6 separate regions of the Homo sapiens genome follow, and all the other regions are linked to region 3. The links come from fine-mapping of genetic effects on gene expression. A gene starts in region 3. Each other region holds a variant in brackets. All regions are shown on one strand. Distances are between the middles of the regions. Region 1 has its middle 8.2 kb from the start of RPS6KA3. Region 2 overlaps BCLAF3 (BCLAF1 and THRAP3 family member 3). Region 3 holds the start of BCLAF3 (BCLAF1 and THRAP3 family member 3). Region 4 has its middle 19 kb from the start of SH3KBP1. Region 5 overlaps RPS6KA3 (ribosomal protein S6 kinase A3). Region 6 overlaps BCLAF3 (BCLAF1 and THRAP3 family member 3).

What was found.
Region 1: its variant is fine-mapped to the expression of BCLAF3 in whole blood (TOPMed, PIP 0.94).
Region 2: its variant is fine-mapped to the expression of BCLAF3 in minor salivary gland (GTEx, PIP above 0.99).
Region 4: its variant is fine-mapped to the expression of BCLAF3 in sigmoid colon (GTEx, PIP 0.94).
Region 5: its variant is fine-mapped to the expression of BCLAF3 in tibial artery (GTEx, PIP 0.93).
Region 6: its variant is fine-mapped to the expression of BCLAF3 in whole blood (TOPMed, PIP above 0.99).

The regions. Positions count from the first base shown.
Region 1 is chrX:20,272,588-20,277,678 of GRCh38, reverse strand. No RefSeq gene overlaps it. Among named protein-coding and RNA genes, the nearest start is that of RPS6KA3, 8.2 kb to the right of the region's middle. The variant A/G (reference allele first, on the strand shown) is at 2,670.
Region 2 is chrX:19,956,466-19,961,556 of GRCh38, reverse strand. All of the region lies in intron 4 of BCLAF3 (BCLAF1 and THRAP3 family member 3), which reads left to right. Among named protein-coding and RNA genes, the nearest start is that of BCLAF3, 32 kb to the left of the region's middle. The variant G/A (reference allele first, on the strand shown) is at 2,532.
Region 3 is chrX:19,987,860-19,992,940 of GRCh38, reverse strand. BCLAF3 (BCLAF1 and THRAP3 family member 3) reads left to right here and starts at 1,880. Exons shown (of 12, transcript NM_001367774.2): 1 at 1,880-2,033. It overlaps LOC729609 (a long non-coding RNA gene), which reads left to right and starts at 3,162. Exons shown (of 2, transcript NR_024440.1): 1 at 3,162-3,255. RefSeq lists silencers at 1,538-1,967, 2,008-2,057, 2,128-2,497.
Region 4 is chrX:19,904,131-19,909,219 of GRCh38, reverse strand. No RefSeq gene overlaps it. Among named protein-coding and RNA genes, the nearest start is that of SH3KBP1, 19 kb to the right of the region's middle. The variant T/C (reference allele first, on the strand shown) is at 2,876.
Region 5 is chrX:20,195,613-20,200,703 of GRCh38, reverse strand. All of the region lies in intron 4 of RPS6KA3 (ribosomal protein S6 kinase A3), which reads left to right. Among named protein-coding and RNA genes, the nearest start is that of EIF1AX, 56 kb to the right of the region's middle. The variant C/T (reference allele first, on the strand shown) is at 2,509.
Region 6 is chrX:19,913,489-19,918,579 of GRCh38, reverse strand. BCLAF3 (BCLAF1 and THRAP3 family member 3) reads left to right here. Exons shown (of 12, transcript NM_001367774.2): 12 at 1,246-5,091. The coding sequence ends at 1,275. Among named protein-coding and RNA genes, the nearest start is that of SH3KBP1, 28 kb to the right of the region's middle. The variant A/G (reference allele first, on the strand shown) is at 2,295.

The sequences.
Region 1 (5,091 bases), 280 kb before region 3:
TTGAATAGGAGTGGTGAGAGAGGGCATCCTTGTCTTGTGCCAGTTTTCAAAGGGAATGCTTACAGCTTTTGCCCATTCAGTATGATATTTGCTGTGGGTTTGTCATAAATAGCTCTCAGTATTTTGAGATATGTTCAATCAATACCTAATTTATTGAGTGTTTTTAGCATGAAGCGGTGTTGAATTTTGTCGAAGGCCTTTTCTGCATCTATTGAGATAATCATGTGTTTTCTGTCATTGGTTCTGTTTATGTGATGGATTATGTTTATTGACTTGCGTATGTTGAACCAGCCTTGCATCCCGGGGATAAAGCTGACTTGATCATGGTGGATAAGCTTTTTAATGTGCTGCTGCATTTGGTTTGCAAGTATATTATTGAGGATTTTCACATCAATGTTCATCAGGGTTATTGCCCTGAAATTTTCTTTTTTTGTTGTGTCTCTGCCAAGTTTTGGTATCAGGATGATGCTGGCTTCATAAAAGGGAGGAGTCCCTCTTTTTGTGTTGTTTGGAATAGTTTCAGAAGGAATGGTACCAGCTCCTCTTTGTACCTCTGGTAGCATTCGGCTGTGAATCCGTCTGGTCCTGGACTTTCTTTGGTTGGTAGGCTATTAATTACTGCCTCAATTTCAGAACTTGTTATTGGTCTATTCAGGGATTTGACTTATTCCTGGTTTAGTCTTGGGAGGGTGTATGTGTCCAGGAATTTATCCATTTCTTCTAGATTTTCTAGTTTATTTGCATAGAGGTGTTTATACTATTCTCTGATGGTAGTTTGTATTTCTGTGGGATCAGTGATAATCTCCCATTTATCATTTTTTATTGTGTCTATTTGAATCTTCTCTTGTTTCTTCTTTATTAATCTGGCTAGTGGTCTATCAGTTTTGTTAATCTTTTCAAAAAACCAGCTCTTGGATTCATGGATTTTTTGAAGGGTTTTTCATGTCTGTATCTCCTTCAGTTCTGCTCTGATCTTAGTTATTTCTTATCTTCTGCTAGCTTTTGAATGTGTTTGCTCTTGCTTCTCTAGTTCTTTTAATTGTGATGTAAGGGTGTCAATTTTAGATCTTTCCTGCTTTCTCCTGTGGGCATTTAGTGTTACAAATTTCCCTCTAAATACTCCTTTAGCTGTGTCCCAGAGATTCTGGTACGTTGTGTCTTTGTTCTCATTGGTTTCAAAGAACTTATTTATTTCTGCCTTAATTTTGTTATGTACCCAGTAGTCATTCAGGAGCAGGTTGTTCAGTTTCCATGTAGTTGTGCAGTTTTGAGTGAGTTTCTTAATCCTGAGTTCTAATTTGATTGCACTGTGGTCTGAGAGGCTGTTTGTCATGACTTCCGTTATTTTGCATTTGCTGAGGACTGTTTTACTTCCAATTATGTGGTCGATTTTAGAATAAGTTCTATGTGGTGCTCAGAAGAATGTCTATTCTGTTGATTTGGGGTGGAGAGTTCTGCAGACGTCTGTTAGGTCTGCTTGGTTCAGAGCTGAGTTCAAGTCCTGAATATCCTTGTTAATTTTCTGTCTCATTGATCTGTCTAATATTGAGAGTGGGGTGATAAAATCTTGCACTATTATTGTGTGGGAGTCTAAGTCTCTTTGTACGTCTCTAAGAACTTGCTTTATGAATCTGGGTTCTCCTATATTGAGTGCATATATATTTAAGATAGTTAGCTCTTCTTGTTGAATTGATCCCTTTACCATTATGTAATGCCCTTCTTTGTCTTTTTTGATCTTTGTTGGTTTGAAGTCTATTTTATCACAGACTAGGATTGCAACCCCTGCTTTTTTTTTTTTTTTTTTTTTTGCTTTCCATTTGCTTGGTAAATCTTCCTCCATCCCTTTATTTTGAGCCTATGTGTGTCTTTGCACGTGAGATGGGTCTCCTGAATGCAGCACACCAGTGGGTCTTGACTCTATCTAATTTGCCAGTCTGTGCCTTTTAATTGGGGCATTCGGCCCATTTACATTTAAGGTTAATATTGTTATGTGTGAATTTGATCCTGACATTATGATGCTAGCTGGTTATTTTGCCCATTACTTGATGCAGTTTCTTCATAGTGTCGATGGTCTCAAAGTGGTGCTTTTCTAAGTCCAGCATTCCTTCTACATTTATAAGCCAGAATTCTTCTGTAAAGACCATTCTTTCATCAACTAATGCTATACGGTTCACCTGAAATACAGTTTGTATAAGAAAAAGCATGATAAATTCTTAATTTTTTTTATATTGCCATTAATGGCTGGCAAAAAAGAAAGAAAGGTAGGCATCTTGCATCTAGGCAAAGGTGCCAGGATTTTATCCTGAGCTATGGAAAGCCACTGTGGGTTTTAAGCACATAGGATGAACAAGATAACATTTTCATTTTAGGATGCACCCTTTATCCCTTGTGTAGAGAATGGGTGAAAGTCAGGAAGGCTCTGAAGGGAGCTGTCATAATTCAGGCCAAAGATGGGGAGGGCCCAAACTGGGGTGGGGGTAGTGGAGCGAGAGAGAGTTTGACAGAATCCAGATTAGAAAGGAGAATCCAAAAATCTAGTAAAATAATGTGGGAGGTGCGAGAAGAAGGGGAGATGGAGGAGGGTAGGATGACATAATGAACCCTATATTTCTGATATGGTCAATTAAATAAATGGTGATGCCACAAAACTCCTTGAGAAATACAGGAAG[A/G]GAAGTATAGAGGAGTTAGCTCCTAAATGAAAAACGAAGTCTGCCCAAACATGGACTTCCCAGACAGAAGGAAAGATTTAAGAAGCTACAGTATAATTTTTTTCACTTCAGTCTAATAAATAATAGTGAGTACATATTAGGGGGAAATTACTCATATATAGAGTTGTCTGGATTCTGGAGATCTATAAAGAAGAATCAGGGATTATTTTGTTAGCATTAAATGTTTAACCTGAAGAAATTAAATTCTAGGCTCTATTCCTAATCCATTTGTAAACACATTCCAAATTCCTCTCTGTTGTTATTTTTTTCCCTATTGCTTACAGAGATATGCCTACTATTTTAGGAAATCCTTAATAGTGGATGTAGTGTTTTCAGAAGTGAAAAATGCTTTGCAAGTGTATAAGCAAAAATCTTCCCAGTCGTTGTATTAGTTTCCAAGGGCTGCCATAACAAAGTACCATAAACTGGGTGGCTGAAAACAACAGAAATTTATTGTCTCAGAGTTCTAGAGGCTAGAAGTCTAAAATCAAGATGTTGTCAGGGCCATGTTCTCTCAGAGACTCTGTGTGGAATCCTTCCTTGCCTCTTCCTAGCTCCTTGCCACTTCCTAGCTTCTGGTGGTTTGTCAGCAATCTGTGGCATTCATTGGCTTGTAGATGCATCATTCCAATCTTCTGTCATTACCTGGCATTCTCCCTGTGTCTCTGTCTTCACATGGCTATCTTCTTATAAGGAGACCAGTCCTAATGGATTAGGGGCCCACCCTACTCAAGTATGACCTCATTTTAACTAATTACATCTGCAACACTCCTATTTCCAAATAAGGTCACATTCTGAAGTACTGAGGATTAGACCTTCAACGTATCTTTTTTGGGAGAATCATAATTCAACCCATAACAGTGGTCTAAAGACCCATGGTAAACTATGAAAACAAAAATTTTCATTTGAAAATTATCTATTTTAACACCCTTTCAAAAGCTTTATATTGCTCTTTGGAGAAGCTGAAACTTATTTTCTTTTTTTTTCAAAATGAAATTTCATAGAATCTTACAGTGTCCACCAAGGCAAAATAAAATAAAGACTAACAGAGCAATACAGCATATGAATATATTTAATAAACATAGTCGTTTAAATACTTATTTAATTGTATTTTGTGGTACATTTTCCTAAGCATTTTCCTGAAATCTTTGGGAGAACTCATTATAGTAAGAAATACTCATTCTTTATCAGAATGAAACACTAACCTTTGCTAACAGTACCTATTGTTTAAATAAAATGAGATAACATATGTAAATCATTTAACAGTTTGCAAGTACTCAACAGCTGTTAGCTACTTTTTTTTGTTTGTTTTTTGTTTTGTTTTGTTTTGTTTTTTGTTTTTGAGACAGAGTCTCATTCTGTTGCCCACGCTGGAGTGCAGTGGCACAATCTCAGCTCACTGCAACATTCACCTCCTGGGTTCAACTGATTCTCCTGCCTCAGCCTCCCGAGTAGCTGGGACTACAGGCGCATGCCACCACACCCGGCTAATTTTTGTATTTTTAGTAGAGACAGGGTTTCTCCATGTTGGCCAGGCTGGTCTCGAACTCCTGACCGCAGGTGATCCTCCCGCCTCGGCCTCCCTAACTGCTAGAATTACAGGAGTGAGCCACTGCACCCAGCCCTGTTAGCTGCTATTAATATATATTTAGTACTCTTAGCATTGCAATGATGATTAAATTACATGTGAAACACTTACATCAATGCCTGACCCACAGTAAGTACTCAGTAAGTGTCTAGCTATTATTATCATCATCACCATCATTATAAAAAGTGTTCAAAACTTTTGGTAAAGTGTCCAAAACTGCCAATACTACTTCGAATTGGCTTATTCTTGCTTAAACGTGAACTCACTATTTGCATACAGTCTTATTAGTCTTAAAATTTTTAATAAAGCCATTTAATCTATAGAATTCATCTCTTATTTTCTAGGCAATTGTAAGTTATTTCAATTCAGTTTTCTTATTTAAAAAAGGAATTCCTTAATGTTTAACCCCTTCCCAGGTTTTTATTCTTATTTTATTAGTTACCAAGAACATGACTTGAAAATAAGCTACTGAAATATAATTGATCTGTTGCTTAATGAAAATGTACTTTACTTACAAATATGGCATTATTAATCCATGAGCAGTTTTTCCAGCAATGGACCTGATTTGATAGTGCCTCACTCACACAATTTTTGTGATTAAAGCTGCAGAGTTTCCAAACATGGAGATTTGGGATTCAGCTGGTGGTCAAAGAATAGAGTTCCATTTAATTCCATAGTGTTCTGCAAAGACACTTCCAGTTGAGGTCTGGCTACGGGCTGGTCTTAAATACAAGTCACTAAAAAAGAATTTTTTAAAAAAAGTATCTTTTCCAGTTGCAGACTCAAATTTGCATT
Region 2 (5,091 bases), 31 kb after region 3:
TTTATTTATTGGTTAACATCTAGAGAGTTTATCTGCTTTTTTTTGGAAATGCTAAGATGGCTAATTTTGTGCATTTATTTACTTAGCTTTGGTTGAGAATTGATATTTGTTCTTCCAATTGTCAGTATGGTTGAAAACATAAGGTTATCACTGTGATTTTTTTAGATTCTAGTTTGTATCTAGAACAGCAGTAGGTAAACACTTGCTTGAATGTTCACTGCATAGTTAATGCTTCTGTTAAGAAAGACTGTATTCTAATGATCCACTCTGTCAGAAACTTCATTATCAGAAATTACATCTGAGTCATAATTATATGTTTCAGAATGTAAGTTAGGGAATCACAGTATGAAAATTTCTACTAAGGTTGTTACATATGCAAAACATGAACTGTTGTATATATGCATCTGGATGTTTTGGGGCAGACAAATGCAGGTGTTAGTTTAATGTTGGGCTTGAGTGAGTGAGGGCTTGACCCTTGGCTAGGCCAGGAAGGAAGAGGAGGAGGGAGGAGGTGGTACTAATATCTGGAGCAGAATAAGCTGCTGCTGATGGATCAGAGACTCCTTTGATCTCCTGGGAAGCTGATACGAGACACCTGGGACATGGGGAAGGTTGTCCATCAGCATTCATGGCTATCAGAGTTGATGGTGGACTGAGTACATTGGCCACATTTGTGTCTAATCCTTTATTTCCCACTGAAGAGACATAGAGGGGTGTCTCTACCCCTATCAGCTCTTTTCCTAGTTTGAAAGGGGATGAGGTGGGGGATGGGCCCCAGAGGACATTGGGACCCTGACACTCTGAGGAAATGGGTATCACGCAGGCAGGGAACAATGTGAAAAGCCATAACTGAGATTGAAGGAAGGGAACCTAGTCACATAAGTGTACCTATGATGGACACTGTTCCGCTGGAGGCAAAATAAGATGCAGGTGGGGATATTTTTTATACCCAAACCTGCCACCTTGCTGTTATATAGCATAGAAAACTAAAGTTCTCCCCTACTTTAATTTCTCATATGCATTTTAAAATCAAAAATTAATTGAGAGAAGGTTCCCTTTCATTCCTATTTTTGACCCTAGCTTCTCTTGGTGTCTCTTAGGGGGCCTTGTGTAGGGATTCTGTTGGCAGTTAGAGTGCATATGTTTTTGTCTTCCTATGGACCACTGATCAGCTTTGTGACATTGGGCAGGTCACTTGGCTGTAACCTTTTGGGACCAAATTAACCTGCAGTTCCTCCTGGCTCTTTGAGTCTGCTTGGATTGGCCATGTGTTGGTGACCATTGAAGCTGAGTTGACAGACACATGGAGGCTCATAATGTTCATCTCTGAACTTTAGTATATATTAGAAATTTTATACTAAAATATTAAATTCAAATTGGTCTAAGTTAAGCAAAAAATAAAAATAAAAGCCAAGAAAGTTAAAAAAAATTAAATTGGCCTCAATTAAAATGTTGAAGTCTGGCTGGGCATGGTGGCCCACGCCTGTAATCCCAGCACTTTGGGAGGCTGAGGCAGGCAGATCCCTTGAGCTCAGGAGTTTGAGACTAGCCTGGGAAACATAGTGAAACTCCATCTTTACAAAAAATACAAAAATTAGCCAGGTGTAGTGGTGCACACTTATAGTCCCAACTAATCAGGAGGCCGAAGTGGGAGGTTGGCTTCAGGAGGCAGAGGTTGCAGTGAGCCGAGATCACGCCACTGCCCTCCAGCCTGGGTGACAGAGCCAGACCCTGTCTCAAAAAGAAAATAAAAATAAAATGTTGAAGTCTTTTCTCTCTCTCGGCAGAGTCTTGCTCTGTCACCCAAGCTGGATGCAGTGGTGTGATCACGGCTCACTGCAGCCTTGACGTCCTGGGCTCTAGCGATCCTCCCACCTTAGCCTCTCGAGTAGCTGGGACTATAGGCACACGCCACCATGCCTGGCTATTTTTTTTTTTTTATTTTTAGTCGAGATGAGGTCTTGCTGTGTTACCCAGGCTGGTCTTGAACTCCTGAGCTCAAGCAATCCTCCTGCCTCTGCCTCCGAAAGTGTTCAGCCTCTTGAGTAGCTGGGATTACAGGCGTGAGCCACCGCACTTGACCTTATCATCTCTCTAGCTGAAACACTCATTTCAAATTGACCAAGTCATTTTTGATTCATTATTTATTCATTCAGTGGGTATTTTTTGAGGGCCTACCCTGTGTGAGACAGTCTGTTAGGGTGCCCTGGGACTGTAGAGCTGCATACGATTAGGTTCCTCCTCCTTTGGTTTATTGGAGTGCATGTGTGACTCAGCAGAAGATGGGTGGTACCAAGCTGGGAGATTGAAGAGAGGCATCATGTAGTTGACATGTGAGCTAGGCTTCAAAGGCTGGTGTATGCAGACACATGGAGGCAAAAGAAATTTTATATTTACAGGTTAACAATGGCAGAAAAACATACACATGAACTTTGACCTGTGTGGTTTTGAGCAGTCAGTGAAAAGGAATAGAGGGAAAGGAGACTGAAAGGTAAGAATGCTGCGACTGCCAGCCTGATTTGACATTATCA[G/A]CTGATAGGAGAGGGCTGGCAGCCCAGTTCTGGCCGCCAGAGGATTGCTGTCTATGAAGTAGACTGAATGCATGTTGGGGCTGGTGAGGCCCACTAGAGGACTTTTGTGCAAAAAGTGAGGAATTAGGGGAGGAGCAATCTCCCTGAACTTTTTCCATCAACTCCACAGTTTCTAAATTGGTTCTTGGGAAGACAGGAGCAAATTATATACAGTCATGCATTGTGCAATGATGGGGATACGTTCTGAGAAATGTCTTGTTAGGCAGTTTTGCCACTGTCTGAAGATCATAGAGTGTATTTACACAAACCTAGATGATGTAACCTACTACACACCTAGGCTATATGGTAGAGCCTATTGCTTCTAGGCTACAAACCTGCACAGCATGTTACTGTACTGAATACTGTAGGCAATTGTAACACATCAGTAACTATTCGTGTATCTAAACATATCTAAACATAGAAAAGGTACACTAGAAATACAGTACCACCATCGTTTAAGTGGTCATTAATGGAAACGCCGTTATGCTGCATGTGACTGTAATTGGGAAAGTGCTTTATATGAACTGTAGGATGCTGTATGAAATGTTAGTTATTAGTTGGAAGAAGACAGAAAGGAAAACTTTATATGTGTCGTACGGATTTTGATAGAAGCTTCCAGAGGGCAGGGGAATCTGTTGGTTTTGGTTGTTGTTGGGTTTTTTGTTGCCGTTTTGCCATGCAGTTCATTTCTTTGATGAGTCCTAAGTGTGTGCAACAGGAAATTAAGGTTTAATGTAGCTTTTTACATTTTCTTGGTTATTACCCACAACGCTCAGGGAGAACATCAGTGGAAATATCCTTAAACAGAAAAATAAACGGGGAAAGTGCAGTCGAGGGAACAAAGGATCTTGGAAGATTTAATGAAACTGATACCAGAAATAGTATTAGAATAGAGGTTTTTGGCTGTATTTTAATTTTTTAAATTGTCTAAAATGCATCTCAAATGAGAACATTTGATCTTTTTAGCTTAACTACTTGCTTTGGGGGTATTTCCTGAAATTATTAACTTGTTAATCAATCCATGCCACAGGAAATAGTAAAAAGTAAAATGTGAACCAAAAGATGATTACATTTACAAATATAAATATTTAGAACATTTTGCATTCTCAAGTCTAAAGAGGGTTTTTCTTGTACCAAAAGTATCATAATTGTTTTTAAAAGACTAAAATTTGGAGGTTATACTATGTTAAATGTATATTTTCTAGAAAATGATAATTTAAATTTTTTATTAAAGATCTTGTAGTAGAGGAACTCTAGGATAAATTTTAATGGATAACAAGTTTAAACACTAAGATTTTAGGAATTAAATATATAATAGCTTCAAAGTATGTAACTCCTATGGATTGAGGATTGAGCATGGAGTGGGGACAAGAGTTTCAGCAGTAATTTGTAAGAAATTATAAGTAAATGTTAATAATTACTCATTGGAAAACTGAACATCTTTATCAGCTTATTTCCTCTTGGGATAAACTGAGGCTGCCAGAAAAAAACCTTATCAACTGATTTCCTCTTGTGGATGGACCATTTGTATAGTTCTATTTAAATATACTATTTTCCTACTATAAAATGTTTTTAAAGGCTATTTTTTCTTTTGCTATGGCACAGGAATTTTGTAACTTTAGACCCCCTTAAACAGAGAGCATTTGTAATTCTTTGTTAGTGGAGGTCGTTACGGGGTGTTCTAACATTTGCCAGCAAATGTCTCTTAGCTAGTTATCACATACACAGTGGGAAGCTTGGAGCAAATTAGGAGGAAAGAAGGGAAATGGGCCTTCTTTCTAATGAAAGTCCTTCTAATGAATCAACGAAACCACAGCAGTGCGGTCAACCTGCTGCATGATTACTTTTCTGTGTTTCTGCCTTGGCAGGGAGTTGACCCTGGCAACGCTGGTCTGAGAGCAGGGAGCACGGAAAGTTAGATGGAAGCCTTTCCTCTGATAAGTTATAAATAGACACTCAAAACCATTTTATTAGAGGAGCTAAAATTTTTAAAGAATATCTGTAAGCCCCTCATAACCCTGCAGCAGTTTGGATATATGGCTGTTACATGACTTAAATAAATAAGTACATATGTGCATGCGTGCACTCATACCCCCAGACACATCTGTCTGTTTGCTTTCTGCTTTATGATGAGCTATTTATTCCAGTGGTGTCCTGTTATTTAAAACATACTTCAGGGCTCTCTTTCAGATTTATCTTCTGAGCCTGTAATGTAGCCATTAAGAACCCCAGCAGTTGCAAATGTCAATTCTTTAGACAGTGAACTTGATTTTTGAGAAGAGCCAAAAGCAATTTAGAGTTAAGTACAGAGGAATGAGATAGGTACAAGCTGATTAGTGCCATTTTGGGTCCAAAATGAGATATAAATATAAAATAATGAGAAAATTTTTTCATTGATGCATGAGGTGCCTGCAGACAAAGCATTTCTGAGTAGTTTTAAGCAAGTGCAGCATTCTTGGAATAAGGTATAGTTTTCCATTACAACACTTGGAAGACATGTTCATTTGAATGCTCAATCTCT
Region 3 (5,081 bases):
GCACAGTGGCTCCTGCCTGTAATCCCAACACTTAGGGAGGCCGAGGCAGCAGGATCACTTGAGCCTAGAAGTTCCAGAACAGCCTGGGCAACATGGCGAAACCCTGTCTCTACAAAAAAAAATTTTTTTTTTAATTAGCTGGGCATGGTGGTGCACGTCTGTTGCAACAGCTACTCTAGAGGCTGAGGCAGGAGTGTCACTTGAGCCCAGGAGTTTGAGGTTACAGTGAGCTATGATTATGCCACTGTACTCCAGCCAGGACCACGACCAAGTGAGACCCCTGACTCTTAAAAAAAAAAACAACAAAAAAAGGCCGGGACGCGGTGGCTCATGCCTGTCATCCCAGCACTTTGAGAGGCTGAGACAGGCGGATCACTTGAGATCAGGAGTTTGAGACCAGCCTGGCCAACATGGTGAAACCCCGTCTCTACTAAAAATACAAAAATTAGCCGGGCATGGTGGCGCACACCTGTAATCCCAGCTACTCAGGAGGCTGAGGCAGGAGGATCACTTGAACCTGGGAGGCAGAGGTTGCAGTGAGCCGAGATCGCACCACTGCACTCCAGCCTGGGTGACAAGAGCCAGACTCTATCTCTAAATAAATAAATAGGCCGTGCGCTGTGGCTCACGCCTGTAATCTCAGCACTCTGGGAGGCTGAGGCGGGAGGATCACCTGAGGTCAGGAGTTCGAGACCAGCCTGGCCGACATGGGGAAACCCTGTCTCTACTAAAAAAAAAAAAAAAATTAGCCGGGCATGGTGGCGCAGCCTGTAATCCCAGCTACTCAGGAGGCTGAGGCAGGAGAATCACTTGAACCCGGGAGGCAGAGGTTGCAGTGAACCGAGATCACACCACTGCACTCCAGCATGGGTGACAGAGATTCTGTCTCAAAATAAATAAATAAGTAAAAATAAAAAAGTGGTTGTAGTCAAAGGCTATGGGTTTAAGTTGGGTAGTGGGATTTCAACATTTAAGGTTTTAGAGATGGAGCAGTATCAAGTGATGAATATCTAGATTTTCTAGACTACGGGTGAACAAAGTAGAAGTAAAGGTCATTCGGATTGAGGAACTGAAGGAAACCAGGCTGGGTTGTGGATGTTGGATTCATTGGGAGGATGGCAGTAAATCAGATGGAGAGGAAAACTAATGCCAGACAGTCAGTAGGTGACAGTGACAAGGGAGGGCAAAAGGTGTTACTACCAGATGGCACAGAGCCTGAAAGAGCTATTTCACAAGGGGAAGAAAGAATATCAGTGTCAAGCGGAAAGCTTCAAGAGTGAAGAAGACACACTACCTTTGAGGCTGGTGCATGGAGTGTGGGAGGGGAGAAACCAAGCGAGTAGACAGAGATGAGGCAATCTTTTGAATTGGATGACGGATAGATGTTGGTACCATCCGACCATTTGGGAAGTCCAGAGGGGAGGCTTTGTTTTCCGGGAATATGCTTAATTTGAGGAGTGGGAAATGGATAGAGGGTAGGTGAATGGTTAGAGATCTGCACAAAGCTGGAAGGCCCACGGGATCAAGTTCTGCCCATGACTGAGGGGTGACCTCCAATCCCTGGGCCTTAACCCCCAGGATCCCTGGACCTGGAACGCCCATTAGGTCCCCTCCTTTCCGGCGAGAGGGCGGCAGAGGGCGCAGGCGCTCTAGCCGGACCCGGCGGGCGGGTGGCAGAGGGCGCAGGCGCCCTGGACAGAGCGGCCGCAGTGGGAACGGCCGGCAGGGGGCGCAGCGCTCTGGTCCGAGAAGCCCGGGCGGGGCACCCTCGCCGGGAGAGTAGAGGATAGGGGTCGGCTGGAGAACGGGCCCAGTGCGAGGCCGCGAGCAGTGGGCGGGGCCGGGGTGGGGGCGGGGCGAGGCGGTTCCGGAAGGAAGTGGTTCCGGGTCCCGCGGCCCGGCAGAGGTGGCTGGGGTGTCGCTGCTGTGGGAGGCGGCGGCAGAGTGAGGGGCGAGGCCCGAGGGGCCGGCGGCGGCGGCGGCGGCGGCGGCGGCGGCGGCGGCGGCGGCGGCGGCGGGGGCTTCCCGGCCGGGTGAGCGGCTCGGGGGGAGGCGGGGCGAGGAGGCCTGGGCCCGCAGGGAGGGCGTGTCCGCCACCCAGGAGGGGCGGTTCTCGGGGTGGCGGATGGGGCAGCGGGGAGGATGCGGCGGTCCGACTCGGGTTCTGTTGGGACAGCTCCTCTGCGCCCCGTAGGTCCCTCGGTCAGCGCCTTCCCTTGGGCGCGGCGACCCGGCGCGGGTTTCCAGGGGACAGCTGCCCGGCGCCCCTGAGGTCCCTCGACAGGCACGGCGACCCGGGCACCTGCTGCCGCGACCCTGATCCTCCGCCGTCGTCGGGCAGGTTGCGGTCCCCGCGGTTCCCTGCATCTGTTAAGAGGGCGGGGGCCGGGAAGGCGGTGTCCGGGGACGGTGCCCTTGTCCTCGAGGCGGCCCTGGACGCGTCGCCTGCGGGGCCTGAACCGAGGACCCCCCCGTACCCCGCTTTGTCCTGGTGAGGCGCTCCTGCCGCGCAGCGGCATCTTCCTCTGTTAACGTCGAGAATGAGTAGTGAAGGCTGCTCATTATCCTGCATTGTAAAGTAAAACTTGTCTTTTTAGAAGCGTCTCCTGAAAATTGGCGCATCTCCTGTGCTTCTCTGGGTTGTATTGGGAAACTGGGCCAGTCGCTGTCAGGACTGTCCTGTTGGTAGGTCTCGAGGGAAAGAAATGGGAGAGAAACCTACCCCGTAAATATTTTCCTACTCAGGTGCTTTTCGAACTACCTATTAGGTGATTGCCTTTTTTTTTTTTTTTTTTTTTCCTGGAACAAATTACAAACTGCAGGTAGAAATCAGGAAGGCCTCTTTAGGCTCCTCGCCAGGCAGCCTTTTTAGCATTTTTCTGAATGTGAACAGGTCCAAACGACAGAGCAGAATTTGAAAAGAAAGGTTTTGCTGCAGATTCATAACGAGGACTTTATTTTTCATTGGTATTTTAATGGTAATGGTATAGCAATGTTTTATTTTTAATGTTTTTTTTAAATGGCTACTAAAATTTTATTTTGAAATCACAGCTGTTTCAGTCACCCCCAAGAAACCTTTAAAACGTCTTATTAGAAACATTTTTATATATAGGAACATTTAGCCATTTATACACATTTCTAAGATAGAAATCACAATGAAGATACGTTGTTTCACTATTCCAAGTTCCAAGTAACCATGGTGAATATGGTTTCCCCATTCCAAGTAACCATTGTGAATGTGGTTATACACCTCCAGTCTTTTTCTATGCAGAGCTTAATACATGAGTTTTTCTAAAGTGAATTCTCTTTTGTAATTATCTTTTTCTGACTAGATAGCATGCCATTATATGGCTGTAATATTATAATTTATTTCATTGGTCATTCTCAGTTCTTCCCTATTAAAATACATTGTTGGGTAAATGTAAAAGTCCGCATATCTATGATTACTTTCGAATCTCACTCTGTCGCCCAGGCTGGAGTGTAGTGGCACGATCTCGGCTCACTGCAACCTCCACCTCCTGGGTTCAAGTGATTCCCCTGTGTCAGCCTCCCGAGTAGCTGGGACTACAGGCGTGTGCCACCATGCCCGGCTAATTTTTGTATTTTTAGTAGAGATGGGGTTTCACCATATTTGCCAGGCTGGTCTCAAACTCCTGACCTCCAGCGATCTGCCCGCCTCGGCCTCGCAAAGTGCTGGGATTACAGGTGTGAGCCACCGCGCCCGGCCCATGATTACTTTCTAAGTGTACATTCCTAGATGATAGAATTATTGGGCAGAGTATGCACATAAGGGTTTTTTTTTTTTTAATGTGAATTGCTCAATTTCCCTCTGGAAAGGATATGCTGTTTTGCACTCCTACCAACAATCTGTGAGTGTCCTTACCCACACCCTAGCAAAAGGCAACATTTAAAGGGATTTCTATAGGAATACTTTTGAGCCATACTTGTACTCTCCAACCAAGTACAACTACCCCTCTCTAGTCATCACTTTTTTCTTATTTGTTGATAGCACTTCAGCTTCTCATCTTTTATTGCGCCTTTACTATTTTGGTAAAGAAAGCTTATCTAGGTGAGGCAAAGGCGTAATAGAACAAACAAGAGATTTAAAGTTAGGATCCCCTTGAAATCCAGTATATCTGATTATCTTGAACAAGTCACTTAACTTTTCTAAGGTACTCTTTCCTCAGTGATGCATTAGGGGTTATAATACAGTTGCCTTACTTTTCTTAAGGATTATTTTAAGGGTCAGTTGAAACATTCCTGGAAAGTACATTTAGACACACTTTGTCTTGTTGGTATTTTTAAAAATTATTTTTAATTTATTATTTTTAAATAGAGACAGTGTCTCACTATGTTGCCTAGGCTGGTCTCAAACTCCTGAGCTCGAGCGATTCTCCTGCCTTGGCCTTGCAGAGTGCTGGGATTACAGGCATGAGCCACTGCACCCGGCCATGTTATTACCATCTGGTAGAAATTTCAGAGCACAGAAGCATCTTGAGGTTCATACATTTTTTAAAGTAAATACCTTAATTCAAAAGGCTATTCTCTGATACCCTTTGCCCCCATACTCTTTCACTCCTTAAATTTGAAGTTTTTTGTTTTACTGCTGCCCTAGATTATATTCAAAACTTTATCAGGGTTATGAAATTAGATGAGTGAATGAATCTGCACAAATGTTGAAGGAGCAAATATTTAAAAGCGCTATATAAAGCTGAGAGGGACAGGTATAACGCTAAATAAAACACAGTACTTGGGCTCATGATAAATAAAACATGGTCTTTGTGCCCTGCAGGCTACATTATCCAGGCAGCAGAGGGCATAAAAGCTGCTTTCCAAATTTAGATGGCAATTTTAGATGTGATGCCTGATGTCAACTATTCTCAAGTATGCTAAAGCCCATTTCTGCTGACCAAGCACCTGAGCAAGTGACCGGGCAGCCTCCACAGGGTCATCTTTCTGAAGGTAGGATTCGCAAGGTGAGGAAGTGGTAGTATTATAGTCCAAGAACCTGGGTTCTACTTTCAGGTCCTCCACCTGGGGCAGATCAGTTAACTTTTTTGAGGCTGGCTTTATTCACTCGT
Region 4 (5,089 bases), 84 kb after region 3:
AAAAAAAATAGAGTCATCAATAGATACTAAATATATGAGGCAATTTTGATGAGCAGGACATTTCAATGTGTAAAAGTGTCTTCTCACAGATCGCTTATTTATTGCAAGGCAGGAAGGAAAAACAGCAATTATACAGTGGAAAGAACAGACAACTCCTTGACTAGGGGATGGAAATTAACATCACCAAGGAGGAGCAGATGGACATCAGTGTGATACTGTTACAGTGGGTAGCTAGTCTGGTATGAGCAGGGCAGGAGAGGGCTCCCCCGACCCACATACCAGGAGTGTCAGGCAACCATCAGGTGATAGTCAGGCGGTGGTTAACTGTCTCTCTAAAATAATGGTGATCAGCAGCTTCCCGATAAGATCTCAGGAGTTGGGAGGAGTAACGCAAGACCCCAGAAGTATGCCAACCTATAAAACCCCAAGTCAAAAGGTCAAACCGTGCACTTGCTTTTCAGGTCGACTGCTTGGCTTTCTTCCAAGTATACTTCATTTCATTCCTGCTCTAAACTTTTTAAATAAACTTTCATTCCTGCTCTAAAACTTGCCTCCATCTCTCCTTCTGCCTTATGCCTCTCAGTCCAATTTTTTCTTCTGAGGAGGCAGTAATTGAGGTTGCTGCAGACCCGTACAGGTTCATTGCCGGAAGATATTTTGGTGCCGTGTGACACGGATATGGATTCTCCACTGCTAACAATAGATAACACAGCATCACTAATATGGTATGTTGGCTGGGAATGCAGCACTTGAATATAATCATAAAGAATCATCAGACAAACCCAAAATGAAGACCATTCTGGTTTTTAAAGAGGGCCTCCATTCTTTCTTTCTTTTCTTTTCTTTTCTTTTCTTTTTTTTTTTTTTTTTTGAGACAGAGTCTCCGTCTGTTGCCCAGGCTGGAGTGCAGTGGCACAATCATGGCTGACTGCAATCTCAACCTCCTGGGCTCAAACGATCTTCCCACATCAGCCTCCCGAGTAGTTGGGACCACAGGTGCATGCCACTGCACCTGGCTTTTTTTTTTTTTAAGAGATGGTGGGGGGCGGTGGGGGGGTCTCCTTATGTTGTCCAGGCTGGTCTTGAACTCCTGACCTCAAGCAATCCTCCTACCTTGGCCTCCCAAAGTGCTGAGATTACAGGTGCGAGCCATCATGCCCAGGCATGTTGATGATTTTGGTCCAAACCAATCTTCATGGCTATGGTGGCAAAATGATGATTTTCTAACTCCAGTGCTCCCTCTACACTTACCAGCTGGCATTGGCATTCTGCTGTAAGCAAGACTCCTCCCTTCTTCCCTGCTTATTTGTCTATTTATTATTGATATGGATTCATTTCTACTTTTTCAGTGGCTTATAATTCATTATTGTCCTTGATTATTTGGGAGCTCAAATGATCCTAGCTTTGGCCAGTGGGAGCCCCTTTAAGCTGATTGCTGTGTCCTCTTGATATGGACCTATCATTCCTTTTTTGACTTTATCTTTTTTATTTCAGTAGGTTTTTGGGAAACAGGTGGTGTTTGGTTACGTGAATAAGTTCTTTAGTGGTGATTTCTGAGATTTTGGCGCACCCATCACCAAGCAGTGTACACTGTAACCAATCTACAGTATCCCTTGCCACCCCCCACCCTTTGCCTCAAGTCCCCAAAGTCCATTGTATCATTCTTATGCCTTTGCATCCTCATAGCTTAGCTCCCACGCATGAGTAAGAACATACAATATTGGTTTTCCATTCCTGAGTTACTTCACTTAGAGTAATAGTCTCCAGCCAGGTGCAGTGGCTCATGCCTGTAATCCCAGCACTTTGGGAGGCTGAGGTGGGTGGATCACCTGAGGCCAGGAGTTCGAGACCATCCTGGACAACATGGAGAAACACCGTCTCTACTAAAAATACAAAAAAAAAAAAAAAAAATTAGCTGGGCGTGGTGGCTCATGCCTGTAATCCCAGCTACTTGGGAAGCTGAGGCAGGAGGATCACTGGAACCCAGAAGGTGGAGGTTGCAGTGAGGTGAGATCACACCACTGCACTCCAGCCTGGGTGACAGAGTGAGACTCTGTCTCAAAAAAAAAAAGTCTCCAATTCCATCCAGGTTGCTACGAATGCCATTATTTCATTCCTTTTTCGTTATTTCATTCCTTTTTATGACTCAGTAGTATTCCATTGTGTGTGTGTGTGTGTGTGTGTGTGTGTGTGTGTGTGTACCACATTTTCTTCATCCACTCGTTGACTGATGGGCATTTGAGCTGGTTCCATATTTTTGCAATTGCAAATTGTGATATGCACCTATCATTTCTTTTTAGCACTTCTTTGCTCTGATGCATAACAAAATGTTTTGGTCTTTATCTTGGACATTCCCTGCCCCAGGCTTGAAATCATTCATTTTTCTAAGGAGTCCTGGTTCCTTTTAGTGGGGGATGGTATTAGAGTCCAAGACTTGGGCCCTAGTGCCCATTGCTACTGGAGTGTCTTTGCTTATAAGCATTTTCAGCAGCCATATCTAGGAAACACACACACACACATACATGCATATATATACATATTTTAGAAATGATGAGGTCACACTGGCACCTACCATCCATCTCCATAGGATTCTTCCTTGCCTTCTCCTGTTTGATATTTGTATGTCCCTTCCTCCACAGTGAGAACCCTGGCTCCCAACATCAAACGATTTAATCATTTGCTCAATCCCATAATACATCTAAAGTAGTTTCGGAATTGCTTCACTTATACCACAGCAGGAAACAAACCTACTAAAAATAGTTCAGGATTTGTTTGCGGTTCTTCAGTGCCATGCCCCAAAGACAGAAGGTATATGGACAAATACTGTGTACATAAATTACTTGCATTAGTCTCCTCCACTCCTACCCCTGTGATA[T/C]GGTCATGTTCTTCATTAGAAATACAGTTGTTTTTTCCAACTTGTTTTCAGTGGTAGCTCTCCCCACCATCCATGTTTATTTGATTTGATTTTTTTCAATATGTAGAACATTAACATACTTCCTCAAATCAAACTATACCAAAAGGTATGCTCAGGGAAGTGTCACTTCCTCCTGTATTCCTTCAATACTATTCCTTCCCACTCCTTGTAGGTGACCAACTTCGGGTTTCTCATTCCTGTGTATTTTTTGGTATAGACAAGCAGATATATGTATGTTTTCTTATTCCGCCCCCCCTCCCCGTTTTTTTCCATATACAGAAAGCAGCATCTTCTATATTCTCTTTTGCACTTTGCTTTTTTCACTTAAGAAATCTTGGAAATTGTTCCATACCAGTTTGTGCGATTGTCTTTTTTTTTTGACACGGAGTCTTGCTCTGTCGCCCAGGCTGGAGTGCAGTGGCACAATCTTGGCTCACTGCAACCTCCACCTCCTGGGTTCAAGCGATTCTCCTGCCTGGGCCTCCCAAGTAGCTAGGATTACAGGCGCCTGCCACCACACCCAGCTAATTTTGTATTTTTAGTAGAGAGAGGGTTTCACCATGTTAGCCAGGCTGGTCTCAAACTCTTGACCTCAGGTGATCTGCCTGCCTTGGCCTTCCAAAGTGCTGGGATTATGGGCGTGAGCCACCATGCCTGGCCTCATTCTTCCTTATAGCTGCATAGTACTCCACTGTGTAGCTGTTATCATAACTTATTCAACCACACTCTTATATTTGGACATTTAGGTAGTTTGACATTTTGCAATTACAAATCATGCTGTAATCAATAACCTTGTGCATATTTATTTTCATATTGTTGGAAGTGAATCTTCAGAGTAAATTCCAAAAAAAAAAAAAAAAAAGTGAGATTGCTGGGCCGAAGGGTAAAATGTATATGGAATGTTGTTAGATATTGCCAGCCCTTCTCCATGGGAGTTGGACCAGGGTGCATTTCCCCCAGCAGTGGATGAGAGTGCCACTTACCCCACAGTCTGGCCAGCAGTGTATTGACAAGCTTTTGAATTTTGCCAATCTGACCCATGAAAAATGATATCTCAGCATTTCAACCTGAGCTATTTTAATTTCAAACGCTAGAAAAAAGTCCTGGTTACAGTGTGATTGTCAGGTATTGAAACAGATTTTATAGACTCTCAACTTGGTATTCTCTAGAAAACTCTCTGGAAACAGTTTTCACCCTAGGAAAATTTTAGCATACATCCCACCCAACTGGATGGGGATGACTTCTGAACCGCTCTAACTGGTTTTTCTGCAATTTGGTCTCTTCCTGTTCATGTTTTAGCAGGTGGGGACTCTTCTAAAGCTTTCTTGCCCCACCTATTGGGCAAGAAGGGGAATTGAGCTGCCTTTCTAAAATACTGCCTAGAAACCAGATGACATGCAGCGCCCGCCAAGATGTTCTGGCCTCATAGACCTTAGTTCAAAACAAGAATCTAAAGAGAACACGATATGTAGATTTATAGCAATGGCTCCAACATACTTCTAGAACATGTATACCTAAACCACATTCTGGAGAGCGTTAGTTAATAAAGATAGTTGACATATTTTTTCTTAGCCGTTCTAACTCCTACATGTGTAAATTTTGGTGACAGCTGCTTGCTGCAGTTAGCCCCTAAGGTCTCAGATGCTCATTTTAAAAAGTTACTTCTTTACACGAAATGGAAGTAATTATTTTCTGGTTATGAGTAATGCATGCTTGATACGGGAAAGAAATCCTAGAAAATATGGGAAAGTATAAAGAAGAACATTAAAATGACCTGTATGCCTACTACTCAGTGGTAAGCATGGTTAACAGTTTGGTCTTAGTCCTTGTGTTCAGGCACAGTGGCTCACGCCTGTAATCCCAGCACTTTGGGAGGCTGAGGAGGGGGAGGATCATTTGAGTCCAGGAGTTTGAGACCAGCCTGGGCAACATAGTGAGACCCTGTCTCTACAAAACATTAGAAAAAAAAATTAGCTGGGCATGGTGGTGCGCACCTGTGGTCCCAGCTATTCAGAAGGCTGAGGTGGGAGGATCACTTGAACCCAGGAGGTCAAGGCTGCAGTGAACCGTGATCATACCACTCCAGCTTGGGCGACACAGTGAGACCCTGTCTCTGGAGAAAAAAATCCTTGTGTACTTTTGGCACATATATACCCACTTTGCATGCACACACAT
Region 5 (5,091 bases), 210 kb before region 3:
AAATTTTTTTTAATAAGGAAAAATAGAGAAACGTTATAAAATTATGGTTTACCACTTAATAGGATATTATTAAAATAAAGTATCTTAAATAAAATTACAAAAATGAATGTAGTGAAAATTAGAACAAATTGAGCTACAAGTATGTAAAATTGTATAGATATTAGCTATAAAAGAGATGATAGAAAAGTGAAAATATTTGACTTATTGGAATTTTAAACTGCTGAATAATTGTGAATGTGTTCTTAAATTTTTATGTTTATCAAAAGAATATCTGTAGAGTCTTATCATATAACATAGCTATGCTTTGCCCACTCTTCTGCCTATCCTAATTCTTGAACCCCAGAGACAATGACTTTCATCTCTTTAGCTGCTGCCATTTACATTTATATTCAACACTTTTATATTGCAATTGTTTGTTTTCATTTGGAGACATAATCTATTGCCTTTCTAACATGGAAGACTAAGATTCAGTTCTCTCATGCTGCCACCCACTCACAGTTTCCCTTTTCACATCTTCCCAATAATGTTTTCATTGTTACAGCTTTATAAGAATTGTTCCTAGCTGAACGAAATAGTATACTACAGTCACATTTCCTTCACTTCTTTTCTGTATTCAGTCTCTTTTCATAAATTCTGTGCCTACCTTTTTCTCAGTTTACTTTTTAGTTTTGATGGAACTCATCTTCTCATAGCTACCTCAGAATGAGTAAATGGATACTAAATTTTTTGTGACCCTCCATGTCTGGAAATGGCTTTATTCTACCGCCTGTCACTTAGTTTATAATTTGGCTGAGTATAAAATTCTAGGTCAGAAAGAATTTTCTACCAGATATTTGAAGGTATTGCTTCCATTGTCTTCTAGTTTCCTGTGTTACAGTGATGAAGTTAATTGCTGGTCTCACTCCCAGTCCTTTGTGTGTAAGCTGCTTTTCCTCTTTGGGAGTCTTTAGAATCTACTCTTTATTCCTGGTGTTCTGAAATTTATATAGTGGTATTCTTGAGTGTGGGTTTCTAAAACTATATCATATGATATATGAGGTGTGGTCTCTTTCAACCTAAAAACTCCTTTCTTCAGTCTTGGGAAAGTTTTTGTCATTTATTCTACATTTGTAAGTGCTGCTCTTTGGAATATGTTAGTTAAACCTCCTGAATTGTTCCTTAATTTTCTTTATTTTTCCATCTTTTATTTTCCATTTTTTCTATTTTCTGTGAAATTTCTTCAACCATCTTCCAACTCTTCTATTGACCTTTTTGTTTCTGCCATCGCTTTTCATTTCCTAGATTTTCTTGTTCTCTGATTATTTCATTAAAACATTTTTCAATTATGGAAAGTGTCAAACATTTAAGAAAGAGACAGAAGAATATAGTGAACCCCCTGTACCCTTCTCCCTGCTTCAACATTTATCAACTCATGGCCAACCTTTTTTCATCAGTGTTCTCCTTCTTCTTCTCTTGATATTTTGAATGAAATCCCAGACACTATAGAATTTCTTTCATAAATATTTTAGTATATATCTCTAAAAGATAGACTCCTGGCTGGGTACGGTGGCTCACGCCTGTAATCCCAGCACTTTGGGAGGCCGAGGCGGGTGGATCATGAGGTCAGGAGTTTGAGACCAGCCTGGCCAACATGGTGAAACCCCGTCTCTACTAAAAATACAAAAATTAGCTGGGTGTGGTGGCGGGCACCTGTAATCTCAGCTACTCAGGAGCCTGAGACAGGAGAATCGTTTGAACCCAGGAGGCGGAGGTTGCAGTGAGTCGAGATTACATCAGTGCACTCCAGCCTGGGCGACGGGGCAAGACTCCATCTCAAAAAAAAGATAGACTCCTAAAAGAGATAATTCAACTGTATTATCATACCTTAAAAATGAGCATAAAGATATCCAGTCTTTGTTCAAATTGCTAGTTGTCCCTACTATTAAAATTTATGTTTCTTTATGCAGTCTGTTTAAATTAGGATCCATACATATAAGGTCTCAACTTTGCAATTGGTTGATAATGTTTTTAAGTCTTTTCATCTATGAACTCTTTCTTCATTTCTTATCTTTTCCTTGTAGTTTATTTGTTGCGGATACTTGTTCCTTCCTCCACCCCACCACCCTTTTTAAACAAGAACAAGAAGCTTTAAAAAGGGTGAGGTGCCATATTATCTTTGCTCCCTCAGTGGACATAAATTACAAGATTGAGTTGTGTTGTGTGGTGTTTAAGTTATCTTCTGTTCCTCACATTGTCTCTGTTTCCCTTTATTCCATTTTTCTGTTTATTTTGATGTTTTTCATGTTTAGAGCCTTTCTCCAAATGCCTGGGGGTCTTTTGCTATCTTTTCTTTAAGAGTCGGGTGCTAGAAAGCTGATTGGAAAGATTTCAATGACAAGAATTTGCTTATTTTTCATTGGCTTCTTTTCCTTAGGCTTAGATTTTTAGCTTTCTCTGGTCTGCTTTGTTAGTTACCACTTGCACATCTTCTACTATTGCTTCCTGTCCTTGTGAGTTTATGCAGTTTTT[C/T]CATTATTGTCATTTCCATGGGGTTTTGGAAGAATGTAGAGAGTAAAATATCCATGTTTAACCAGAAGTCTCTTCCCATTTTAAAGTTCCTGTTAATACGATAAATGGGGTCAAATACAAGTCAATAACATTAGATAAAGTTAATGGGGACTTCTGTCCTATTAAAGTGGTCTGTTTGTCTAAAAGGTTCTGTAAACTGCTTAAAAAGGTTTCTTAATGCATAGTCCTAGGAACATAAACAACATTTCTTCATTCTCAGGTTCAGTCAAGTAGGGCTTAAATCTAATAACTACTCTAGAAGAAAAAATATTTCAGAGGAATCTAGTTGCTTTGCCAGCATGAGTCAGTATTAACCAATTCTATGTTGGGATTAGAAGTTGGCCTATATAAAACATGCCTTCTTCTGAATTAGTATATACTAATTAAAATTCCTCATGGTAGGATGATTTAGAATTGTCACTAGGTCTTTACATAAGCAAAAGAAACGAGATTAGAATTATGACACAGGCCTACCTCAGACAAAATGAAGGAATTCTTTAGAGAAGGACTCTCACTGCTCATTTTCAGTTAAACAAGGTCTCATCAATGTTACATATAAGGAAATGTTGAAGAGAAAACTGTCTCACAAAAAAATCATCTTGGTTCTAATCCTTCATTTTATAGAGGAGGAAACAGGAAATCCCTGAGCAATGAAATGATTTGACCAAGGTAGTTATGAGTTCATCTAGTTATTAGTATAGCCACTAAACTGTAGTTCTTGACTCCCAAATAATTGTTCTTTTCATTGTGGTAAAATAAGACAAGAGGGATATACAGTGCATTTATTAGTGGATATTTTTGATGCTTACTGAGCAGACGAGGTATTTTTAAGTGATAAGCCTTGTATACTTATTGAAAGAGGTAGGACTTTGGAATCCACCTTTAAGGTGATAGGAACTAATCCAAAATTGTATGGTAATAATGAGAAAAGGACAGATTTAGGCTAGACTAGAATAGAAATATCAGCAGGTATTGGTGATGAACTTCACTCACATAAAAAGTACAAAGGGCATATCAGGCTGGGCGTGGTGGCCCGTGCCTGTAATCCCAGCACTTGGGGAGGCCAAGGCAGGCGGATCACCTGAGGTCAGGAGTTAGAGACCAGCCTGGCCAACATGGTGAAACCCCGTCTCTACCACAAATACAAAAATTAGCCAGGTATGGTAGCACAAGCCTGTAATCCCAGCTGCTCGGGAAGCTGAGGCAGAAGAATAACTTGAACCCTGGAGAGGGAGGTTGCAGCGAGCCGAGGTCACACCACTGCACTCCAGCCAGGGCGACAGCGATATCCTATCTCAAAAAAAAGGGGGCATATCAGATATAACAAGGAAAATACCAGAGTTGTAGCGATCGGGCAAGGTAATGAAATCAGAGATTGCTATTGAATTTGATATACTAACTGGACAGGTCAGTTAAAAGAGCTGCGTAGACATCAAGAGCAATTGATTCCTATTTCTGATTTGCCCATTTTCAGTCAGTGGTATGAAAATCTCCCAGTTGGGGATAGAAAACTGGTAGAATGGAAAAAATAGGGCATTTTTTAGCTGCTTTGTTTATTTTCCCCAGAGGTCTTATTTCTATATTTTAAATATCTGCAGTCACCCTAAACTGAAAATAAAACCAACTCAACTTTCTCCCTCCTCCAAAGATTGTCCTATTCTTTCCATTTTCATGTTTCATATAACCATTCAGAGTACTTAGAATGTATTATAATCATTTATTTACCTGTCTGTCCTTCCCACTAGATCATGAGCTTCTTGAAGATTATCTTATTTGTATGTATATCCCTAGTGCATTGCACATACACTTTGCTCAGGAAATATTTGGTTGCTGAAAAAGAGCTTTGCTCACAGGGTCAAATATAAATTCATCTTGGCATTCCAACTTCTCAAGAATCTGGATCCTCCCCATTTCGCCTTGGCGCAGTAGTAAATCTCATTTGGTTCCTTCCTGTTTGTCATTCATGCCTTCACATCTTTGCTTACACTGGGTACTCCATGCTTGGACTCTTGTTTTCTAGGGCCTATCCTTCCTACCCATCTAAATGCCACTCCAAAAGTCTTAAAGCTTGCTCCCTGACCCTACATCTTTCTTCTAGCCTTCCTATGCAAGTAAGACTGATCTTGCCCTTCTCTGAATCCTGCAGTACTCATTGCTGGTAGTAAATTGTTTTATCCCTTAATCATATTCATGGTGCTACTTTGCATATAATAACAATAGCTACTATTTAATTGAATATCTCATACATACCAGGCTCTAGGTACATACCTTATCTCAAATGGTCATATGCTCCTCAAAGCTACAGTAGTGTTATCCCCATTGTGTAGCCGAAAGGTAACTGAGTCTCAAAGAATTTAAATAAGTATCTTGCTCGTGATTGTACAGATCTTGTGATGCTTAAGTTTTTTTCAAAAAAAAGATTACACAGATCTGAATTCATATCTTTCTGTCTAAACTCCAGAAAACATTTGCTCTTTCAGCTATACCACAGTATGTTCTCTCTCTCCCTCTTGCTTCCTTTCTTCTTCCCTCAAAATAGACCTC
Region 6 (5,091 bases), 74 kb after region 3:
AACGGAGACTCCATCTCAAAAAAAAAAAAAAAAAAAAAAAAAAAAGGCCGGGTTGGGGGGGCTTTTAAATCATTGGAAGGGTGGAGGGATCAAGTGGAGATAGGTTATGAAAGAAGCTATGTCAAGGGTGAATGTAACTCAAAATAATCACACATTTAACAAGATACTTCAACTGAATCTTATTTTAGAATTATTGTAGTTAGAATTTCCTTTTAAAGTTGTAAGTAGGTAACATTTTATTTGAAGATAAATTTATATGATTTTTATATTGTATAATGAGTAAAGAACTAGGATACAATGAAGTCTACCTCTATTTAAAGGAATGATGTTGACAAATATATACGTGCATGTATTTTGAAGATTTCATTAACCAAAATAGAAGAATAAGAATTTTCTATCAGCACTGTTTTTGTTTGGAATTAAACATTTCCATACTAATATAAATGCCAAAAAATAAATCAACTTTTACATTTCTTTCAGTTTTAATAGTGTAAGATCCTAGTGAAAGGTAAGGATATGTATATTAATAAATTTTTATTTTTTAATGTCCCTAAAAAATGTGCCATTTTACCATGTTTGCTCCGTTATTACTTGCATGGTCTTATGTCCAGTTTGTGGTTAGTAATTGAATATTGTGCATAGTATCACAGTATAGAATCCACGTTCATTATTCTCTAATCATAGTCTCATTGTTCTTGTAAATTCTTCTTCCTGTATTTATTGAAGCCTTACACCTTTTTATACTGTAGTCAACCATCCAAAAGTAAGAAGGCATTTCCCCCTCTAATAACTTTCTCTGCAGTTATCAGTCAGTTAAAAGAGCCCATGTAGTTTTAGAATTAGAGATATAGGGTGGAAAAGATAAAATACTAATTTGAGGTGTGCGTGTGTAGTGTCAGGCTCCGTACTTGAGAGCCAAAGGTTTAAGAGTCTTGATTTTATGCCAGGGATGCCTTCACTGAAACTCACCCAAATAGCAGAAGACTGTTTTCATCAATTTACTAATATCAATGTTATCTAGCACCACATGTTTTCTTTGTCCTATTGATTTATCATGCGATATTGCTTTGATGTGTTCTGTTGTTACTTTGCGCCTTTGGGGTTCCACATGCCTTCGTGGGAATCTCGGGGTGCAAGTAACACTGTATAAACGAAAATACTTTGAAAATTGCAGTGTAAACAAAACTAGCTCAGATGTTTGACACTTTGTTTGAAGTCTTTATTTCTCTTGTTTTCTCTCAATAGGAATATACAGATGTTGCCACAGGAATCTAATCTGAAATCGTACAAATGGAAATGACGCTACAGGAGGATGTTTGGGAGCATCTCTCTCTTTTTGTCAGGAGTTAGAAGTGACACTAAGGCACTAATACTGTAACTTCTTGATAAAATAACTTTATTTTTTAGTAGTGGAATGCTGCAACTTTTTTACACCTAACAATTGCTTTTAAATTACAGTATTCAATTTAAAAGTTGTATTAACTACAGTTTCCTTTGCAAAAAGTCTCAAAAGAATCACTTGAAGGGCATTATTTGTTGATGCATTTTTCTCTGAGCATGGTTTCATAGAGAGAACTTCACCAAGTAATATTCAGACGTTTATATGTTGAAAGTTTTGCTTACATAATAAAAACAAAAACAAGTGTCTGAATTGTATAGTGTCTTTACATGAAAGAACTTTAAACAGTGGCCTTATGGTAGAAAATTTTATACCAGATTTTTCTTTTTCTGATGACATTTTGGCTTATAACTCGAAGTTTTCTTAAGTTTCTGAAGATCAAGGCCTATATAATTCATACATTTCATATTATAAGAAGGCAAGAGACAAGGTGCTTCAAATATTCCATCAGGTAGTTGTGAGTGCACTGAATTTTTAGTAATATGTTCATTCAGTTTTTTTCCACAACTATTTGCTCTTTTCCAATTTCAAAATGCTATTGTGGAAAATATGTAAAGATTTTGTAATCTATAGTCCATCTTATTTTTCCCTCAGGGCAAGCTTGTGCATATCATATTTTTAAAGGCTTTTTAAAAATCTGACAAACAAAATCTCATATTTGAAAATTGTACTTTACTACTACAGCATTACACATTTTGCAAGCACATCTTATAGAGTGTTTACTTTTAGTTCAGTTGATATGTATTGCATACCTACTATGTGTAAGAGCAAATGGATGGGATTTTTAAATGAAATTTTTAGGCCCCAATACCTTATTTCTTTATGTTTTCTGTGTTCTGCTTAACAGTACATATACATTCCCAATTACATTTTTGTGAAATGTTTATTTGTAATA[A/G]AATAAAATGTTGTTGCTCTTTCTGCTTAAATAAGTTACTTGCCAGTTTGTGAGAGCATTATTTTAATTTTGTTTGAGACTTATAGCCTTGGATAGCACCTCTGTTTAAACAGTGTTTAAAGCACTGTTCTGTGCTTACAAAGACAGAGCTTTCAAAATTAAAATGTGAAGGTTGATAAGAACTTGGTTTTTCATGACTGGATGTGAAAAATCTTAGTACATTCAGTTTTCTTGTCCATATCTTTAAAAGAGAGGGCAGCCTTTTCCTTAAGTGAGTTCATGATAAGGGGGGCAAGTGCACTTGATTCATTGCTAAGCAGGTAATAAATTTGGGTAGATGGCCTGTCTTGTACTGTGTACAATCTCTATAGGTCAGGTTTTCCAAACATATTTAGCATTCCACTTATGGTAAGAAAGAAATGCATGCACACAGGTAGTATGGCAACTTTATATTGTGTTAGGTACTTATAAAATCTGTCTTAAATTTTAAAATAATTGATTTCATTTACTCCCATATTCTAGGGGACAGTAATGAGCTTTGAATATTTAATCATTTGATTGACAACTATGTATTGCACAGATACTGTACTAAAATTACAGCAATGAACAAGAAGACAAGACACATGGACCCTGCCTTTATGGTACGAAGAGTCTAATAGGAAAAATGGACATTAAACAGAAATATAACTTGGTAAATCGCCTTTATAGCTCGCTTTTTATTTATTGTAACACATAAAGGTAAGATGGCTGATTTACTATTATTCATTCCACAACTGATTCCCTATTTGGATATTCTTTTGGCACTGTCTCAATATGCAAAGCGTGTTATCTGCAAAATACCTGTGCAGAAAACATTGTGTGTATAAGATCTAAAGCCTAAAAGGAAAAACCAACTTTATAATTTAGAGTATAAAATAAGGACAGGGACCGTGTCTGTCTTGTCCACCATAGTATCCCCAGCACCCAGCTTCCTATTTGACGTGTGGTAAGAGTTCATTAAATATTAGTTGAATAATGAATGAATAAATAGGGAATAATAGAATATGTTTATTAGGAACTACATGTGTAATTTTCATATGGAGATTGAACAAAAGGTTATCCATAGCATTTTTTATTGACTGGAAAGAATTTGACTTCTTGAATGCATAAGACTTGAGAAGAGAAGTTTTTTTTTTTTTTCTTTTTTTTGATAAGTCCCCTACCATTGCCTCCTCACCTTCCTCCACTACGTGCTAGGCCCTTCGCTGGTACTGGGAAGACAAAGATAATAAGACACAGTCCCTGCTGTGAGGAAGCTCATGCACTGCTGAAGAAGAGATTCACAAAAACAAAGAATCACAATGTAGAGTAAGTACTTTAGTGGACATATATACAAAAGGTTGAGAGGAAAGTTGACATTTCTGATTCAGCATCCCCTCGTCATGTTTCTTTCCTATTGGTTTCACCAACCTCAGAAGGCACTATTCTGTTGGTGGTTTTACTGGTTTTAAAAATTGATGCATTGGGGGAAACTGGGTAAATTGTACGCGGGATCTCTCTGTATTATTTCTTTTATAGCTGCATGTGAATCTAGAGTTACTTCAACATAAATTTCAATTTGAAGAATTGCCCATAGTCTTATCACAGAGAACACTATTATAAATATTTTAGATGATACATTTTCATTTTTTTCTATTGGAAAAAAACTCGCTACATTTATGTGTAACAATTTATGTAGATGTATACTATGTACCACATTTTACCTAATAAATCCTACATTTTTGAATAGTTTTTTTTTTAAAAAAAAGACGGGGATACTTCCAGGCAGAAGCAAGAAAAGTAAAGCTGGATGAGAAACTCTTATTGTCTTTATTACCCAGCAAATTCAGTAACCACCAGGCACAAATTCACCAGGAACAACCAAGCAAGGAAGGAAGAAGAAGCTGATGCAACAAGGTGTGGTATGACTTCATCCCTCGCCCATCCCCAGAAGTAGCACTGAGTAAAACAATGGAGATGACAAAAATATTGGTAACAGTGGGCCCCAGTATGGACAAAGGCACTGACGAGGTGACCAGGCCACGTGGAGGAGAGTCAAGGAAAACTCTTGGGACAACGAAGTCTTTGCTTCCATCTCAGGACCTCAGCAGAAGGGGTAAGATTCACCAGGACTAGGCATTTCCCAGGTCTCAGAGCAGCCTGGGAAAGCCAAATCCTGCAGAAGTCAGAGACACCTTTGACTGTGTCTAGTGAGTTCTGGTTCTGGACATTTAATGGGAACCTAGAAGAGAGGGGATACCAGGTTCCCCAACAAAGTTCCGTCAAATAGGATGATTATGAGCTCTGAGTCCATTAAAATACAGAATGAACATTTAAGAACTGAGGAATCATAGATGTAGAATAGTATGTAAATGTTATAAATCTTGACAAAGAAAAATTAATGTACATTGACAAATTCAGACATGGAGGAGGTAAAGTGGGATAAAGACTTAAGAACTAACCGTCTCATCATTCATGGCCAGGTGTCATGTCACGTCATGTCTTAAAATTATAATATGGGGAAAAACGCTAGTGACCAACCTTAAGTTTTTCCACAATCTTTTTTTTCCTTGACCTTAATACAGTGGTTCTCAAAGTGTGGTCCCAGACCAGCAACATCAGCATCACCTGAGAACTTGTTAAAAATGCAGATTCTTGGCCCCACCCCAGACCTCCTGAATCAGAAACCCTGGGGGTGGGGCCAAGCAATCTGTGATTTAACAAGTCCTCCAGGGGATTCTGGCACATACTTGAGTTTGAGAATAACTGGCTTATTTAT